Linked DNA regions of Homo sapiens: region 2 is linked to region 1. The links come from fine-mapping of genetic effects on gene expression. A gene starts in region 1. The other region holds a variant in brackets. All regions are shown on one strand. Distances are from middle to middle.

Region 1 (3,028 bases):
TAAAACAAAAATATATATGCATAGGAAAAGAGAAAAGAACAACATCCCAGGATAACAATGGTTATCTTCAGGTATCAGAAATATGGGTAATTTCTGTGTCCCCTTTGTGCTTCTCTGTCTTTCCTAGCTCTCCTACAATGAGCATGCAGCTTTTGAAATCAGGGGAAAAAAAAAGTTAAATAGATGCAGAGTTTCTAATCTTAAAAGCAACAGTTAATCTGGATTAAATACACAGAGTAGCTATCTTTAAACCTCATCCAAGTCACTGAGAACAAACCCTCCAGTACTGTACTTGGCGTAGCAGGAGGCGGCTGCAAGGCTCCAAGGAGCGCAGCAATAACTCTATTCTGGGGCCTTAGCAAACTGAGAAGACAGAGTTGTTTCATAGAAACTTGGGCAAGTGCTTCTGCAACAACAGCGAAACTCACTCCCAGCTCTCTCGTGCCCCTGCCCCCTATGGCACTCCCGAGCACCGGGGACTATACGTTGGAGCCCTCGCCCCTGCCAAGGTGCTCCCGAAGCTTCGGCCCCCTCTACCCCCGCTCCCCCCCGCAAAATGTGTGCTCCACAACTCACCTCCACTCTCCTTCACCTCCTACTCCTCTACGGCCGTAGGGGAAGGAAAGACCGGGCCGAACTTGGAGGCAGCAGCCCCTGATTCCCGTGACCTTGGAGAAGCCGCTTCGCCACTCAGAGCCTCAGTTTCCCAATCTGCCCCCCTCCCTGGCAGGGCGTCTGCAGGCTAGAAACCCCAAGAACTCAGTCAAACCGAGGGGCCGCTCTCACCACTCGGCGCCGACCCACTCCCCAGGACCGCTCTGAGGCGCCCCCGATCCCAGCCTGGACACGGAGCGCCGCCCCGCCGCCCCTCGGGACGCGTCGCCCCTATCACCGTCCCAGTACCTGGCAGTTGCTGTCCTGGGGCAGGTTTTTCACCAGGATTTTCCTGCGGTTGCTCAGCTCCCGCTGCATCCGCTGCAGTCGCGCGGCGACCTCCTCAGGGTGCAGCGCGGCGGGCATCGGGTCCGGGGCGCCCTCGTGCGCTTCGGCTGAGGGGCCCTGCCCGCGCAGCCCCGGCCCCGGCCCCAGCCCCGCCGCGCTGCCCAGGCCCGCGCCCCCCTCGCCGCCGCCGTCTCCCGCCGCCGCCGCCATCTTCCCGGGCGCCCAGCGGCTGCGGACTCCTCGGAGGCTCCAGGGGAAGCGGAGAGAGAAAGCGGGAGGAGGCCCGGGCGAGGGCGAGGCGGGCAGAGGCCGCAGAGTGGGCCCAACCGCGGGGAAGGGGGGCGGTGGGAGGAGGGAGTAGAGAGAGGCGGCGCCGCAGCCAGCAGCCTGCTGGCGGGGAGAGGAAACCTGAGGCGCCGAGGAGGAGCCCGAGAACCACCTCGCGGGAACCTCCCCCGCCGGCCCCCGGCCCCGGCGCACAGGCGCGCCCGCGCCCGCCTCTCGCGGGTCCGCAGGCGGGGCCGGGCGCCGCCACCCGGACACCTGTGAGGGCGCGGACGCGCAGGCGGGCTCCCCCTCTCTGCGAGGCCTTCGCGAACGCCCAGGGTCGTTCTCTGGGGGATGCGGCCCCTTCGCGGTGGCTTCGCCGGGAGACTCAGCCCCAGGCGCCTGTCCCCGGCTGGCCCCCCATGTGACGCCGCAGCTCTCCCCCGGCTCCCCTCGAAACTCCCGCGCTGGGGCGGCCCGGGGGCTGCGGGCGCGAACTCGGTCTTCCCACACCCGAGATGGGGCTGGAGGGGTGGCAGGAGGGCGCCTCCTGCAGCCCGGCTGGCTCCCGATGGTAACCCTTCTGTTGGTTCAAGAAGAGCATATTTGGCAAAGTTTGAGTTTACAATGAGATTTTCTGGGGAGTAAAAAGAGGGACATTGTGGGAGAAATGTTATGTATTTGGTAAAACCTGATCGTAATGTATTTTGCTAGCTGTGTATGAGAAAGCCTGTGCCCTTCACCTGTCCCTCTGTCCCTGTCATGCAGTTCCTAAAATGTAAAACCTGGGTAGTTGGGTCTGCAACATGGAAAGTGATGCTGAAACAAAGACTAGAATGGAAAAGGAGCTGTGGCAGAGGGGCTGGAGAATACGCTGCTTGGAACATTATTTTAATTGAAACTTGGAGGGAGAGTTACAGTGTAGAACTATACTTAGTCAAACGGATGTCATCAGATCAAACAATCCAGCAGCCTTTGGCACTAGCCCAGGTGACCATCAGCGAAGGGGACCATGCATCTTAATTGTGTAGCATGCAAGTACACTAGCAAAAAAAAAAAAAAAAAAAAAAAAAAGACTTTAACACTAATTAAAAGAAAAACAAAATGTTTTAAAGATTTTTTAAAAATACTACAAATTCAGTCCTTACCATGTGCTCCCCCCAACCACGCATTTCTAAATGCTTTACATATACATATTTATTTACTCTTCATGATCATTCAATTACGTAGGTTTTGTTTTCCTCACTTTACACGTGAGGAAATGGGATCTGTTCTGATTGATTCCAAAGCCCAGTGTTCTGAATAACATAAAATAATTCACCCGTAATCCGTCCACCCAAAAATAATGGCTGCTAATACTTGTATCATTAAAATGATATTCGGCAATACACCCTTCTATACCACCACTATTCCTGGTAACCAAAGGATAGAAACAACCCAAATGTCCATTTATTGATGAACAGATAGGCAAAGCGTGGGATATATATATGCTAAGAAATATTTTTAGCCATAAAAAGGAATTAAGGACCCCTACAAGGTGGACGAACCTCCAAAGCATTAAATGAAAGAAGCCAGAGACAAAAGGTCATATATTGTATGATTCCATGCGTATAAAATATCAGAATAGGTAGATTCATAGAGCGGAACACAGATTGGTGTTTACCAAGGGCTGGAGGAGAAGGTAATGGGTGCAAACATCCTTATGGAATGATGAAAATCTAGTTTTGGAACTAGACAGAGGGGGCAGTAGCCCAATAATATGAATGTACTAAATAGTCACTGAACTATTCACTTTTAAAATATTAATTTTATTACGTGA
Region 2 (2,500 bases), 130 kb before region 1:
AGCCCTCAGTAAATGTTAGTATTATTGTTTTACTACTCAGTACTTTTATATAAAGAGATATGTCTTTGATCTTTCTGTTTATGGGTAGTAATACTGTTAGAATCAGACCTGTGTTAGAATTACAGACAGTTCCATGGTTAAAATAAGTTACACTTCAGATATGTAAGTGTTGGTGCACATTCAAATGTGGATATGCATAAAGAAAGGCTGGGTTTCCAGCCCAGTCCACAAAAGCCACTTTATGAATGAAAATCTATAGCATATTTGAATTATTTGTCCTAATAATACTGAATCCAAAAGCCATTTGCCTATGTTCCCAAGGAAAACTTCCCTTTACAGTTTAACTCCATATTCTCGGTTTATAAGAAAGACTATAACTTCTGAAGGGTAACTGTTCATATTGCTTGAGAAGCATGGATTGAGGTGTTCAGGAGAGCACTAGATAGCTGCCAAGGTATCTGTAGCTTCTTAACTCAGTGTCTGCGTTGGAGAGAGTCCCCGCCTGGGTGTGCTGGGCCAGGGAGGGGGCCCTGTCAGTGTCAGTCTCACTGCAGATGTCCGATTTGGGAAACAAGTGCCTATTACCTCATATTCTCCCAGGTTTTTTGTCATTTAAGTTTACCTCATCTTAGTTTGAGGCCTGGCTGCTTATGAAAATATCAGTAATAGCTGATTATTGGCAGTCATTCTCCCCCCAACCTGCCTATGTTTCAGGTTCATAAAATTTTAATCATGGGCGTAGAAGTGAGTGACTTCATAATCTCCCTGGTCTTTCCCATCATTCTCTTATTGACGGAGGCAACTGGTGGAGTGGAGAGGCAGGGGAGCACTGTTGGGCCAGCTTTGTGAAGCCATATATCTTCTTGCTAGTTGGTTACTAAATAAAAAATATTTGTGATAATCATACAGAGTACTTAAGAAGTATATTTATTATTAATGGTAATAGATTTTAATCACTGACAAAAATCACTTTGGTTATTATTTATTCTAATATGCATTTTGCATACTACTGCCAGGAATTTGTTTGCATGTCTGATGTATAATCACGAGCGTGTTAGAATTGTTTAAGTGCTTTCTGTAGGAAACAGATGGAAGATTTCCCCAACTCCCAGAGTGTTTCCGATTAGCAAAGTGCACATCAGGCAGGATCTGTGAACCTCTCAGATAGGGGTTTTTTTGAAGCTGGATTTGATAAG[G/A]CTCTGTGACGGATACCTGTAATGAGAAATATCATCAGAGTTTTATTTTTAAATGATCTAAATTTGGTTTGCCAGGAGCTACAGTGCATATTTCTGGGGAGTCATAGTTCTTGATGATTATGATCAAAACAGCCTGACCGAACCTGGTCGGAAGTCTGTTTGCCCTAAGAGGATATGAGTGACCCAGATTCTTTGTGGATGAGAGAGTTCCTTATCTTTGCATATATTGGGTTTAGAAACAGATGGCCAAATGTATCCGCCTTGATTTTCTGATGTGTTTTTTTACTTTTCCTCAGGTATCTCTCCTCTTTGTCACAACCTCTTTGCCCTGTATGACGAGAACACCAAGCTCTGGTATGCTCCAAATCGCACCATCACCGTTGATGACAAGATGTCCCTCCGGCTCCACTACCGGATGAGGTATGGGAAGTACTGACCTGGTACCTGCCTGGCTCCCTCTGCACTGAGGGACAGTGGTCAGCCTGGAGCCCTGAGTCACTTACCAAGAAGTATTGTAGTCATTTTTGTAATTTGTAACTTTTGTATTTGCTTGATGTGAGAAAGGACTTCTTCAGTATTTGGAATACAATTCAAGATGAGTTTGATCACCTTCCTCTGCCACATTTTAGAAAAGAAATCTTGATAAGGCAGAGGATATTTTGAATAGAATTAGTGTCCTACAGCAGAGTTTTTCAAATGGGTAATCATAGTTATGAATTTAATTTAGTGGATTCACAGTTATGAATTCAATTTAATTTAGTGAATTTAAGAAAAAGAAACAGGAGACGATACTATCAGCATATATACATAACCTAAGTATATTTTTTAAACTTTTGAGATATATATATATATATATATATATATATATATATATATATATATACACACTATATATATAAAGGTCATGATATAAAATATTTTTCTTACTAAAAGTTGCAACTAAAAAGCTCGAGAAACATTGCCTGAAGTGTTAACTAGAAATTCTAGGTTGGCCTTGCTCTCTGGGAGTGGATGTTTTGACTACTCCTTGAGGATTTTTGGCTGTGGAGCTGTAATTTTTCTTCTGATGGGCACCTGCCTTTTCTCCCATATTGCAGACTTTGAGAAATGTCACAGGTGACACAGACAGTCAGTACTTCAATAGCTGCAGTCTCCTGAGTTTGTAAACATATTTGTTCAGTAACTAGAATGGAAAATATGTTAGTTACATACTTGCTAAGCAGAAGTTAATGTGTGTTTAGCAGTGGAGATTATAAATAGGGTGGATCCTTTTTGAAAAGCAGGTTAACTTACAGAGGTATTAA

Direction of the effects. Alleles are on the strand shown, and positions count from the first base shown. SD is a standard deviation of normalised expression in the study named.
For the expression in spinal cord of the gene that starts at base 1,250 in region 1, allele A in region 2 goes with a lower level than allele G (small effect, 0.22 SD a copy in GTEx).

What was found. PIP is the estimated chance that this variant, and not a neighbour inherited with it, causes the effect. A credible set is the group of variants that fine-mapping cannot tell apart.
Region 2: its variant is the best candidate, but not a certain one, in a credible set for the expression of RAVER2 in spinal cord (GTEx, PIP 0.57).

Annotation. Positions count from the first base shown.
Region 1 is chr1:64,743,297-64,746,324 of GRCh38, reverse strand. It overlaps RAVER2 (ribonucleoprotein, PTB binding 2), which reads right to left and starts at 1,250. Exons shown (of 12, transcript NM_001366165.2): 1 at 904-1,250. The coding sequence starts at 1,152. RefSeq lists silencers at 1,277-1,476, 1,497-1,596.
Region 2 is chr1:64,878,141-64,880,640 of GRCh38, reverse strand. JAK1 (Janus kinase 1) reads left to right here. Exons shown (of 25, transcript NM_002227.4): 4 at 1,493-1,616. Among named protein-coding and RNA genes, the nearest start is that of JAK1, 87 kb to the left of the region's middle. The variant G/A (reference allele first, on the strand shown) is at 1,197.